Regions from separate parts of the Homo sapiens genome. Here region 2 is reported to be linked to region 1. The links are microRNA targets in miRTarBase. Many come from high-throughput screens and were not tested one by one. Region 1 holds a microRNA gene; the other region holds the end of a gene's coding sequence.

Evidence for each region. The annotated mature microRNA hsa-miR-3666 reads CAGUGCAAGUGUAGAUGCCGA and lies in region 1 at 3,894-3,914, opposite strand. An mRNA with a match to its seed (bases 2 to 7 or 8) in the 3' UTR can be bound and repressed. Matches are read on the target gene's strand: a 7mer-m8 pairs with bases 2 to 8, a 7mer-A1 pairs with bases 2 to 7 and ends in A, and an 8mer does both.
Region 2: the mRNA of MAP7 is a reported target of hsa-miR-3666. Seed matches in the 3' UTR shown: 7mer-m8 at 1,537-1,543.

What each region holds. Positions count from the first base shown.
Region 1 is chr7:114,650,165-114,657,286 of GRCh38, reverse strand. MIR3666 (microRNA 3666) reads right to left here and starts at 3,942; the gene lies at 3,832-3,942. It overlaps FOXP2 (forkhead box P2), which reads right to left. Exons shown (of 17, transcript NM_014491.4): 9 at 4,997-5,084; 10 at 3,278-3,361. RefSeq lists an enhancer at 969-2,233.
Region 2 is chr6:136,337,550-136,344,671 of GRCh38, reverse strand. MAP7 (microtubule associated protein 7) reads left to right here. Exons shown (of 18, transcript NM_003980.6): 18 at 434-1,938. The coding sequence ends at 444. Among named protein-coding and RNA genes, the nearest start is that of BCLAF1, 51 kb to the right of the region's middle.

The sequences.
Region 1 (7,122 bases):
AAAGAAAAAAGGTGAGAATGTATGCAAGCTGTTTAACAGTGTGCCCTTCATTACTCCCCTCAGAAAGGCCCTGTTCTTCATTATCAAAAAACTCATATCACCTCTGTCATATTTACCACACATCTTTTGTCATAAATAGCATCCAATTAGCAAAATTTTTACGCAGGGCAGCACATAAAAAGATTTCTGCCATACATTTAAATGGTATTCACAAGAGGTAATCTGTGGTCCTTTTTACTTTATACAGTAGGCTATACAACCAAGCAAGAAAACTAATTCTAATTGTTCTGTTTCTCTATAAAGTAACTGCTGAGTGGCTAAATAGAGAATATTCAGCTTTTGTTTATAATTTAGTAACACCTGTCTTTTTAAATCCCAAATACACTTCTTAAGATAAACCTTTTTTTAATGGGGAGAAAATGATGTGTACAGCATTGATTGATCTTTCTTTGTGGATTTGTTTTACACATTTAGTCAGTAGAGAGATTTGTTAGGGAAACAAAAATTAACATATGCCAGCTAATTGTTCTTCTTTCTTGGGCAGCAGCCAGAAGAAGCACATTAGCAGTCTAATAATAACGACTGGCACCCTGAAGGCATCCCCAAGTGCATCTGTTCCCAATAAACCACAAACTGTTATTCTGTTCATACTCTAAGCCAGCAGACTGGGTAGGGAATTCTTTGTTACGTACATAAATGAAAGCTGAGATAATGCTCCTAAATGCTGCATTTAATACATTTACAAAGCCACTGGTGTAAGCTTCTCTGGGATGTACAAGAGCACCTCTGCATAGTTTGAGAAACGCAGAAACATCCATATGCATCTGTATGTGACTTTGCAAATATTCTAAAATATCAACATCAGAACATATACATAACAATGTTATATTTAGAAAATATCAGCATTACATACTTGTATGTTAAAAATATGAAAAGAAAAGAAAAGTATTTCCCCATACATAAAAAAAAAAAACTCAGCTGGATGGTTACATATTCACTTTTAGAATTGCAAACCAGAACAAAATGGCACATTCAGAACCCAGAAAATACCAAATTGCAAATCAATGAAATATCTATCCTGATGAATATGTGACAGGACTCTGTACATTTTACCAACACATTAAAAGTTATCAAAACAGGAGAAATACATCTTTTTCAATGCAAACCACTCATGTTTACAATGTTACGGTAACTTATTCTGCTATCCTGTAATAATAAGCATACCATGTTTGTAGGCGTACAATCACAAACTGATAAAATAGAATTTATTATTAACTAAAGGGAAGCATGTAAAAGCTAGGATGAGCACTTAGCCACCTCGACTCATCTGAATATAGTCAAGGTTGGGTGAAACTCATTATTCAGGACTCGCAGCCTTGATAACTTTGATTTTCATCCATCCATAGCATGGCCAAAAGGTACCATTTAATGAAGTACCATTCAGAGAGTAAATGGGGTCATATAATAGACAGTGCGGTTGCACCTTGTGTTCATGTACTGATAGCTGTTAAGGGTGCAGTGATGAACCAACAGAGCTCATTTCTCCTTGGTAATAAATTCATGCTATTAATATTTATCAAATGTGTGGGCCGTCTCAACTGAGCCACTGCACATGAGACCATAAATCTCTACTATCATATCAATTTTGAAGCTTCTTTTGTACAGTGTATAAATTTTAGGGTTTTTTTGAGGGTTGTGAGTATTGACCACTCTTCTTTCAAACCGATCTGAGGCCAATAGTGCAGTTCCTCACTTCAGATATCGCTAGTTCCAAAGGGAACTTTAAACTGTGGTTTCATTTTAAATCGCTCATCTAAGATTCTGTATTAATTGCCCACCATCAAACGCAATTAGCAATTCTTTCATGTGTGGTTTATGTAATGTAATACTTCAATTACATTATTCATTCAGGTTCTGTTTTGGATTATAGGCTGAAAATTCTTTATTAGTGTAGATGTAACCATGCTGCTGGAGTTTTAAAAAATTTACTGATTGAATAATTAATTGGAAAAGAACAAGCTGCAGATTCCTGATGGATTTATGAGACAATTATTCTGTCTTGTGATTATCTACATTATACTATAGAAGCAATGAGGGAAAAAATCTTATTGAAAAGATAGTCATAAATACATGATCAAAAATATCCTCAAAAGTTTATTTTTTAATTAAAAACTCAGACATTTTAGAGTTTAAAAAGTAGTATGTCAGATTCAAAAAGATACATGTCTTTTTTCTTCCTATAAAAATGTTTTTACAGTACTCTACCTTTAAATACAGTACAAAGGAAAAGCAGAAATAGCTTAGCAGAGTTTAAATATAATCTCTACCAAAAAAGTAAATTTTGAATGATATTAATTGATAAGAAATATCGAGACATTACGAGAAAATTAGACAATATAGTCGTCTTCTGTCTCCTCCCCAACTACAAAGCCAAATGTTCGTTTTTTACCTAAAGAAATAGAGGGAGAGGCAAGACTGGCAATCATTAATCATCAGGCTATACAGGGGCCTTATTAAAAAGTATCCCACAAACTTTCATTAAACTAGAGTTACCCAGTTGATTACTCTAAGTTTCTGTGCAAACATCAGCTGAATGAGATAAAGTATATTCTTTTCAACAGTCTGTGTATCTGACTACATTATTAGGTTGAGCTTAAATCTCATATATTTTTGAGGGAAACTAGTCTTAATTTTCTATAATCACCCACTTCTTTTTGTGATAAGCTCTCTAAATTAACATTATGTATAATGTACAATAAAACATATCAATATGTGAAATACATCTTAACTGAAATAACCAAAGAAATAGGACAAAATTGGCTATAAAAATACCATGACCTTTATGACAAAATATTTGATAAAAATCTATTTATATGTATCTTATGATTGATCTGCCTTCTTCAGCACACCACATACATTTCTATTTGTGATTTGTACGTTACTACTTTTCAGGTTGCTCAAAGAGGGTTTCCTTTTAATATCTGTAAACCTATCACAGAAAGAAATTCTCTCTGGCTTCAGCCCCAAGGCAGTGATTTGTGCACTGATAGGTGTACTTTGTTTAGTGTCACCCATGGTGTAGATTGGATAGATTTTGTAAAAGATAGCATTACTTTAAAAGAAACATACAATTTGACAAGCGATTACATTTTACTTTCATTTTATTGCCGTATTTTTCATCACACTCATTGTTTTCTAACTGTCACTAAATTGTTCATTTTCTTAGTCTGTTACATTGGTAGAGCTATTTACTGTTTATAAAGCAATATGCACTTACAGGTTTGGGAGATGGTTTGGGCTCTGAGGGTCGCATGTGCAAGTGGGTCATCATTGCTTGAAGACGTTCGCGTTCTTTAGAAAGCTGTTAAGAAAGAGTGAGATCAGAAGCGTTTTAGAAATGACTGATACAGCTATTTTATTGCAGTGATACATCTTATCATTGAGCTTGCCTCAGAATAATGATTCCTGCATGTAAAAGTCTGCGTCAGGAGGAACTTATCTGGGAGGAAATGCAACTTTAGCTATGGAGGGGGAAAAACTTTTATAGCTTTTCTTATGTTAAAAGGTCAGAGAAAACAAATAACACTTCATCTTTTTGTCAATAAGAGAATTGAGGTCACAGTTGCCTCGACAGTAACAAGTTACTGAAACCATAAATTAGAAGGCCCATGGTGTCTCTTTAAAGTCCTGTGGACACTGTTAGCAATGGACTAGTGCCAACAGCTGTGAAGGGGTGAAGGGTTCTCAAAGCAAAGTGCCTGCCAGGATTGTCTACACACTTCATGCATTCCCACTGAGGTCCAGTTAGTGCCCCCTGCAATCTGCCATCATCAATCTAATTCAATAGAGTGACAGAGACCAGGCAGTGTGAAACGCTGAACTCTGCCACGGAGTCGGCATCTACACTTGCACTGGGTCTCATTACAACTGACGGACCTTACTTTTCCATCAGTCAGACACAGCAGAAGGAAAAAAAAAAAATAGGCGTAATTGGTCACACCGAAGACTGTATCATCAGCTGAACTCTTATGTTTTAGTCTACCTTTTATAAATGGTAAACAGGTTTATAAAAAGCTTTTTAAACTTTAACAGTGATGGTGCTTTTTGTGTTCTTGATTATTTTACAAGTCAAAACAAAATATTTTTAGTAAGCTCTCTGAAAAAAGCAATGACACGAATTTGAAACAAGATGTAATAAAATATGAAGAAAAATCGTATCTTTAAATGAAACAAAGTATTAGTTTCATTGAGAAAAGATCATCTTTAAGATGAAATGTTAGAGAAAGCCTTAAAGGCTTAGTAAAACATAACAAGAGTCAGACTTTGGGTGACATAATTGCTTTCTGATTAGTTCTATGGATTCTATTTACTTCTGGCCAAATTCTGTTTCAACATTAATAGAATTTTTTTTAACTTAAAACAGTCGCATTTGATACAACATGTGTGTATTATCATCTGTGATATAAATTATCTGCCTTTAATCTAGCTAAAGAAAAGTATAAAGATTTTTTTGCAAGTTCTTTAATTAAAATTACACTAGAAAAAGAAAAGAAAAGGTTATCTTTCAGGGTGTTAGTTATATTACAGGCATGATATTGTAAAGACTGGTCATTTGCCACAATATAAAATCTCATGGAAAAAAATCAAGGTTAGCTCATGTAAAAACTCTCTCTGTAATAAAATCATATCTAATTGGGAGTTTGGTCTAACCTGCATTGGGAAAAACTTAGATCTGACTACTTTGGGATATTCAAATTCATATGATGTGGTCTAAAAGTTATAAAAATATAAGTGATAAGTACATTAAACTACAGCAATCCTTCCTGGGTTATCAATAATTGCCACTGTTTAAAACAATCTAAAATATCATGTATCTCCATTAGTATTGAATGGCTAAGACAGTAAAATGCAGGCTGAAAGACCCAGAATCTGCTCAGTACTCAATGTAACACACCAGAAATCTAAGAAGAGTCCATTAAGTGAGCATTTAACAAACCTGTATTTCTAACTGTTGCACCACCTGCATTTGCACTCGACACTGAGCAGTGCTTCGGTCATCCAATGCGTGTTCATTGTTAAGGTGCCTAAACAAACAGAAGACACAAAACAGAATGTAAAGTGATGTCGATCTTAGTGGCATAGGCTACACTTAAAAAGCACTACACTGAAGTCAGATGTTTCTGTGCACTGGGAAAACAGAAAGCCTTGAAACCATACAGATAAAAGTTAAAGCTGCTTACGTGTTGTGTGAAAATTATTTATGTAATGTAAAGAGACTCTTCAAATGGCAGAAAATGTCACTGTCTCTAAGCTTACCTGTTATTACAAAAAATATTTCCCCAGACCATTTACAGAGTTATAGTAGAAGTCATATTATTTATGCCATTTTTTTAAAAAGAACAGCTTACAAATCTATGAACCAAAAGCAATTCTGAAGAGAACAAAGGCAATTTTCTATTTCATTGTTAGAACAGTTTGTTGTTTCTATGATGTATTTTAGTGAGCAATGTTTTATTTCATTGGGATGTGGTATGAATTAGGTAAAGATGGCAAATTATCTCCCGTGGAAAATCAATATTTATGAAGAATGATGATTTGCTGTTAGTAATAAAGAACTTCATTGAAGATTTTGATCATTAGAATAACAAGATTGACATTTCATGTCCAGTGTTCTAACTAGGAGACATTTGTCCTAATCTTATTTTTAAAATGGTGAAAAATAAATCATTCCAAATGATCTCACTCTAACCTTGAATATGCATTAGTCTACCATTATTATTTCTATACGATGTTTAAAGAGATCTCTTTAATGAGTGGTATGTTAATACACCAAAAGTAATTTAGTAAAGCAGCATCTCCAATGAACATGAAAACATTTAATAATATATACTCTGTAATTTGTAATACATAATGTCTTTGATGCTTCCCAAAATTAAAGAAAGTAATCTTCAAGTAATTCAATATCCTTTAGTGTATCTATTTCACCAATGGGCAAAGTAAGGCAACAATTTCAGAGATGTTCTCATCATTGCATATAAGTGAAATGGCATATTGAAAAGAAATTCACAAAATTAAATAAGAATTTATATATTTACCCAAGTGGGCTCAAGTATCATTTAGAATGATATAATAGTCTAAAAAGTTTATAATAGCCCTGGGTATACTGAATTCAACAAATATATTTTTGTATCCATTCAAATTATTTACTTTTATTTCTTGAAGATCACAGTGAGGCAGAAAAAATATAAGACACATACATGTAAAACATATGAAGAGTAATTAAAGTCGTGTTGCTGATAAAAACTAATTTTATTATAAACAAAAGGTTTATTTGTTTATATACCTAGGTTCAACAATCAGAAACCTTTGTTTTGCCTATACCTTGATAAATTAAACCAGTTTGTTTTAATACTTCCTTATTGATCATAACAACAAAACCTCCATGTATCTTGTCACAATGTCAGTCTTGGTTGAAGAGAAACTGTGGACTAAAATAGCAAGGTGGATAAGGTCAAGCTGAAGGAGTGTGGCTGGAGTGCAGGGGAGGCACTTCCACTATACCTGTCTGCTCTCTAAGCTCAGCTCAGGTTTGTTCTGCTGTGAACCTGTGAGGAGGATTAACATTCACTCATGCTCTCTGGGAAGGAGGTATGGAATGTGAGAGTAAGCCAGAGGTTAGTTAACAGAAAGTGTCACCAATTCCTAAATAACAAGACTACATTTAAAAATTGTTTCCCAGGGTTTTTTCCCCCAAAATTTAAATGAACAGTAAGACAATTTTCTACCAGCATAATACAGTTGTGTGTTGTATTCTTAAGGCTTCATATTGCTGTGTTTCCGTAAGATTTTTTTTTTTTTCACCATGAACTCTTGGGGAACACAAACATATTTATTCCATATAAGAAAAAATGTTGCATATTTTCAAAAATGCTTCAGTTATACACTGAGATTAGGGTGTAAATGCAGGAAGCAAGATAAGTAGAACATACAGGTCTGCAATAAAAGGCATAGTCACTATAACATTTTCTTGTGAAATCACTTTTTAAAATGATTTTCTACACTTGTTTACTGCTTAGTGATAATCATGATCTTATATTTAAAGAACTAAAAAAAGTACAAAAT
Region 2 (7,122 bases), not on the chromosome of region 1:
TGATGGAAACATGCCCAGTGCAGCTTCCTACTCATGTTACAGATTTACAGGAAGGGAAAGAACTTCCAGATGATTTATCAACATTTATTTAACCTCCAACATATGTTTAGAACCCTAAGCATCAGATACTGAGGATACAAGAGAAATGAATGTTTAAACCCCTAACCGAGAAAAGTACAATCTGTGTATGCCACTTGGAAAAATGAAGGCTGTGGCCTAAGCTGATGTAAAGAAAAGAACATATGTTTCCTATGAGTAACAGAATTCACTTAAATATAAGACTGTGAATCCTAACAGAATTGCCTATTCTTATATAAGTGTATATAACAGTATAGTAAGTTTTAGAAATTTAAGGTATTACTATGGTATTCTTGAAATAAGATTTTAGATAAATGTCATATTAATCTTGTTCTTTTTCTGTCTCTTCATGTAGAAGTTATATGAGTGTTTCTTCTGAAGAACCAAAGCTGAAATTTAATGAGAATTTCTACAATTAATGGAATTCCTTTCCTGCTATAAAGGAGCATCCCCTCCACCCGTTTTCTAGAGTTCTTGACCATCATTTTGAAAAGATTTATTAAAACTAGCTAAAGACAACAGACTGGATAGCTTTTCTAATAATTTTCATCAATAGGAAAAAAGAAATACGTCTCATTCTTCAATACTTTAAAATGGCTTTTTCCAGTGTGCTCCTTCTTAGCAATCAATATTTTTCTGCATTCTTTAAAAGACAAGAGAATTTGGTTATAAAAGAAATGGGCTGACTAGGCATGATTTTTTTGGTCTTAAAAGCTTAACATGTAAAATTGGCAAAAAAAATTTTTTACCTTTTATAATACTTGAAAAATAAGTACCTCTTTGTTCTACAAGTAGAATGAATAGGAGAAGAGTTTAAGCCTGTTTTTTTAAAATATTATTGCAAAGAGCTCTATTTGTAGAAGCAAATTATAGGCAGATTACCAGGTTCTTATAAATACAGCTTGTACATGGACATTCTGCAAACCCAGCTGTCACATTTTTCTTGCAACTCCTTTTGCAAAAGCAGACTAAAATGTTTTAAAATGTGAAAAAACATTATTTTTTCAAAGCAAGAAAATAATTTACTGCCCTCTTACATAATGTATTTATAAAGTTTTTCCAGATAAACTAATCAAATAAATTAGAATAATGTGACAACATTACAAATTTAATTTGTTAGCTGCATTCCTTCTGATGTTACCACGATAGAATGTTACTGATGATTCAGGGCTATTTCTGAAGTCTGTATGTTGCTGCTGTCCCCAGTGATGGTGGACTTATCTTTGCCTTACCTGATCACAAATTATGTTGGGGAAAATAAAGATTTAATATTTCTTTAAATAGAAAAAGAATTTGGTTTTGCTCGTTTAAGAGCAATGAGAAAATGATGGAATGTTGACTGTGTTTGGCACACAGGACACGGACCTTCATGGAAGTCCTTGCTCTGCGTGGCATCTGTCAGCTTTTCACCTTTCATTCTTATTCTTCACTTTTGCTGCTGAGCCTAGCTGTACAAACTTGCACTTTCATTTGCTAATATAAATTCAGTTTTATTTTACCATTTTAGAGACTACTAATGATTAAATGTAGAAGGAGAGGGTGCACATGTTTTTATGTGGAGTGTTTAAAAGATAAATTTATACCACTGTAATGTGCAGCTTTTATTAAAAGAGAAATTGGTTGAACTGCTAGGTTGAATGAGAGACTTCATCTATTGGACTATTTTTTTTAATCCAGGCATATGGTCTTTAGTAATGGCTTGTAATTTGTGAAAACATTAATTTGGGGGTTTTCCCTGTTTTCAGTTGTCCATGTACACATAGTCATTATATTAGAAAAGAAATCTGTTCAACAAACTTGTTTAATTTGTTTAAATCAACATAGCATGAAACACCAAATAAAATGTTTGACATAGTTTTACTTTTAGCTTTCTCATATGTTATAACTTCACTCAGATTGATTCTTGAGTCTTCAGATTGTCCTTCATTTAACTCAGTGACATTTTCCTAGCCTCCTGTTGATTAAGCATATAGGATAGCCTTATTTAAAATTTAGAGCAGTAGGTGTATTTTGGCTGTTTTTCTTTTTCATGTGTGTTTTTAAACTTTAGTCATCATTAGCAAACGGAAAGCCTTCTAAGTAATCAAGTTTTAATTAGAAGTGGTGCAAAATTCTTAATTATATTGTGTTAAAGAGCAGCGCTGCCAGAGAATGACCCTGACCTTTACAATGGCTGGCTTGCTTTTTGGCCAGCACTGGAAAAATCTATATTTACTTGCAGACCTTAAGGAGGTCTTCAGTATTCACCCTACATTAAGGGGAGCGCTCAGGAATCAAATATGGCCCTCAGTATGAAATGAGAGTGAATGGGCTTTTAGTTTCCTTCCTACACCATTGCAAACTATCTAGGCCAATTTAGTCACCAATCACAGGTCCATTTGGTGGTACCTCTAGCTATTACAGGAAAGTAAGGCTATATGTGTCCTCCTACATAACCGCACCACCTCGTGGTGTGTTACTATAAAAGCAAATCTAAAACAGTTATCTATATGACAAGTTTATTAGCAAGCAGGGCTTCTGGAAAGCTTGGAGAAGTTCTTTCTCTGCTCCTAAGTAACCCCACAAACACCTTGACTAAAAAGTTCACAGTGAAGCAGAAGCAGTGATATTCTGAAAGCAGAATTAAGAAACCTAATTGCTTGGTTGGATCAGGCCACAGTCATAAACGTGTGTGGAGTGCTGGAGGGGGAAGGTACAGGGGCAAGGAGATCTCTAGACCTGAGATACTATAAAAAGTCATTATTTTGCAGGATCTGCCAGATTCTTACACCTCATTTCATGCATTTTGCCTCTAAAAGTCTAGACAACCACCTACTTTTCAGGCTGCATTCATCAGTGAAAAATTACTAATATCCCTTATGCTGATGAACACTCTGGCGTATATTTAGATAAGTGTTTAAAGCATCTTCCTAGCCACCTGATTGAGGTGCTTCAAATACTAACTTACCCCCAGAACAAGATTGAAGTTAAATTACACAGCACACATCCATTACACAGTTTATATTTGAAGTATTTTAAAGTAAATTATTGCATAATAAGTAACAGTCAGCAATAAATTCTCCCATCTTTTGCATTACTTTTTTTAAAATCTGATTGAAATGGACTATTGGCCTCTATCTATTCTGTGCATTGAACACTTAAAGGCATGATGGGGCTGGGTTCCGTGGCTTACACTGTAATCCGAGCACTTTGAGAGGCCAAGGCAGGAGGATCACTCAAGGCCAGCAGTTCAAGACCAGCTTGGGCAGCATCGCAAGACCCTCCCCCGTGCCCATCTCTACTGTCAAAAGAAAAAAAAAAGCGTGATGGAATAGCTATTGGATCAGGTTACAAAAAACAATTTTTAAAAATAAGCTAACATCTAAGAAACATCATTTTGCCTATACTGCCTCCCCCAAAATCCTGTTTTTACTCAGTGAACACCTAAGCCCACTCAGAAATGTTCTGGATTGTCATTTTCTCACATCCTTTAGCACCTCCTTAGTTTTGGGGAGGAGCTCTGAAGGCCTTGCAAGAAGTGGGAGAGAAAAGGACCAGCGTGTGAACAGAAGGGACGATTTTAAGTTTATTACAAATAAAACATTTTGCGACTAGTTCGTTGGTGAATCTCAATTGGGTTTTTATATTAGTAGGTTTGATTACAATTTTAGAGATCAAAAGTAATTTTAGAAACTAAAAATTGGGAGGCCGAGGTGGGCGGATCACCTGAGGTTGGGAGTTCGAGACCAGCCTGACCAACAAGGAGAAACCCTATCTCTACTAAAAAAAAAATTAGCCAAGCGTGGTGGCACATGCCTGTAATCCCAGCTACTTGGGAGGCTGAGGCAGGAGAATCGCTTTAACCTGGGAGGCGGAGGTTGCAGTGAGCCGAGATCACGCCATTGCACTCCAGCCTGGGCAACAGAGCGAAATTCCCTCTCAAAAAAAATAAAAATAAAAAATACAAAAATTAGCTGGGTGTGGTGGTGCACGCCTGTAATCCCAGCTACTCTGGAGGCTGAGGCACGAGAATCTCTTGAACCCAGGATGTGGAGGTTGCAGTGAGCCAAGATTGTGCCACTGCACTCCAGCCCGGGCGACAGAGTGAGACTCTGTCTCGAAAAAAACTAATGCCAAGATAAGTTCTAAAGAAGTTTTAAAATTGCTGTTTAAAAATATACACAGGCCAGCCGCCATGGCTTATGCCCCTAATCCCAAAACTTTAGGAGTCCAAAGTGGGAGGATCGCTTGAGCCCAGTAGTTTGAGACCAGCCTGGGTAACATACAGAGACCCTGTCTCTACAAAAATTAGAAAATTAGCCGGGCATGATGGCGCACGTCTGTGGTCTCAATCACTTGAGAAGCTGAGGTGGAAGGATCACTTAAACCCAGAAGGTCGAGGCTACGGTGAGCTGTGATCGTGCCACTGCATTCCAGCCTGAGTGACAGAGCCAGACCCTATCTAAACAAACAACAACAACAAAAAACCCTAAAAATTAAAGTATACACTAAAAAAGGACTGACAATCACTTTTGAATTACTGGATCTCTAAATACCTTGTGGAAGAGTAAAGGGAGAGGGTCAGAAGGCAAGGTGCTAATGTTAGAAGCAATAGAAAAATGAAGAGCCAGCATCTGGAGTTACACTTAGGTGGTTAAGTATCAGGTTTGCCAGTAATTAACCATAGGAAGCTTGGTAAGTTAATTGTGTTCTCTGTATCTGGATATTTTCATTGCTAAGTGGGAGAATAACACTTATCTCATGGAGTTGTCTTTATTATTATTATTATTATTTTTTGAGATGGGGTCTTGCTGTGTTGCCAGGCTGGAGTGCAGTGGCACGATCTCAGCTCACTGCAACCTCTGCCTCCCAGGTTCAAGCGATTCCCCTGCCTCAGCCTCCCAAGTAGCTGGGACTACAGGCGCACACCACCATGCCCAGCTAATTTTTTGTATTTTAGTAAGATGGGGTTTCACCATGTCAGCCAGGCTGGTCTCGAACTCCTGACCTCGTGATCCGCCCACCTCGGCCTCCCAAAGTGTTGGGATTACAGGCGTGAGCCACCACGCCCGGCCCTCATGCCGGCGTGTCTTAATTATTAAGGTTGAATTAAATGAGTATAAAGTTTCTCAGTAATTTTTCAATAAATGTTAAAACTTTTGTGTTTAAGGCCGGGCATGGTGGCTCACGCCTGTAATCCCAGCACTTTGGGAGGCCGAGGCAGGTGGATCACCTGAGGCCAGGGGTTCGAGACCAGCCTGGTCAACATGGTAAAAACCCCATCTCTACTAAAAATACAAAAATTAGTTGGGCGTGGTGGTGCACGTCTGTAGTCCCAGCTACTCGGGAGGCTGAGGCACGAGAATCGCTTGAACCTGGGACAGAGGTTGCAGTGAGCCAAGATCGTGCCACTGCACTCCAGCCTGGGTGACAAGAGTGAAACTCCATCTCAAAAAAAAAAAACTTTTGCGTTTAGTTTGAGATACTTGTGGAAGACAGGGTCTCTGAAAGTCCAAAGAGTGGCAGGTATCTGCCCCTGTAAGTGGGATCTTCACTCTAATAGTGGCCTTAAATGTCATTAGTCTTTCTTTTTTTTTTTAAGATGCCCATTCTAGGTAGTAGTATACCAAGCAAGCTAAATGGATATGAACTGTTTTCTTCAGGGCAGTATTGCAAGTTTAGAATTTGTAATCATTGAGTTGCTACCATATTACCATTTCACAATCACTTCCCTTTCCATCTCTCCCAAAATGTTTTCTTTCCAAAAAGAATTTTATTTTTATTTTCACATATTTGGAGGCTTTTTTGACATCCTTTGACACAATTAGAGTTACCTTGTTGGCTGCAAATATAGGGATGGTTAACTGCTTTTCCAGAAGTTAGTTGACACTGGCCAGCCTCCAGGAGGTGCTACAGGAAGCTGGGGCAGTGAGAAGTTTCTAAAGCAGTTTCCAAGAGGACTGTGAAGCACATCTCGTTCCAGCTGTGTGTAATGATTCCTTCTCCTCCATAAGTGGAGCCGCCTTACCAGAAGGTGTTATCAAAAAAGAGATGGGGTCAGGCAGGGTGGCTCACACCCGTAATCCCAACACTCTAGGAGACCAAGGCGGGTGGATCACTTTAAGGTCAGGAGTTCCAGACCAGCCTGACCAACATGGTGAAACCGCATCTCTACTAAAAATACAAAAATTAGCGAGGTGTGGTGGCAAACATTTGTAATCCCAGCTACTCGGGAGGCCTAGGCAGGAGAATCGTTTGAACCTGAGAAGTGGAGGTTGCAGTGAGCCGAGATTGCACCACTGCACTCCAGCCTGGGTGACCAAGCAAGGCTCTATCTCAACAACAACAACAACAACAAATGGATCAGGAAGGCGAGGATTTGGAGGCCCTTGTTGGATGTGAGGGTCAGGAAAGGCATCCTTCAGTGCTTCTCTTGCTAGTTCCAGAGTCATCCTTCCCCGTCAGAATGATTGGCAAGAATTTGTCTCACTCTGAGCTGCACCTGCCCTATACTGTCATTCATGTCATCAACTGACATGACCTCTGGCTGGTGGAGTATCAGTGTCCCAGGCTTTTGGGTTTGGGGAGGGTTGGAAAGTAAGTGGGAACCCAACATCAATGACTGACATGATTTTGCCATGGTAGGAACAGTGGAAATAAAAGGCCACTCTTGGTAACTTGTTCCCCGAGACTGTACATCCCACATTGACATATCTGAGGGCTCTTGTCAAAAGCCAGCCCTGCCCCAGTATGTGGCAGCCAGAAGTGCCAGGAAGTTAAGACCTGGGAAGCAGCTTTCAATCAGTGACACACAGAGTCTGTAAATATGGTCCCCGCTCCTGCCTGGGGTGTGCCAACTCTTACATGTATACTTACACTTTGCCTAGAGCTTCTTCACCAGATCAAGCATCTGTCCGTCACAGTGGTAGCTGGCTTTGTAACCCTTAATTTTTTGGCTACATTTTCTTACTGGGGTTCCCTTTGCCTCCCAGATAAACTACTTGTACTCACATCATCATCATAAGGTCAGCTTCCAGGAAAACCTGAACTGAGGACTATCAGTGT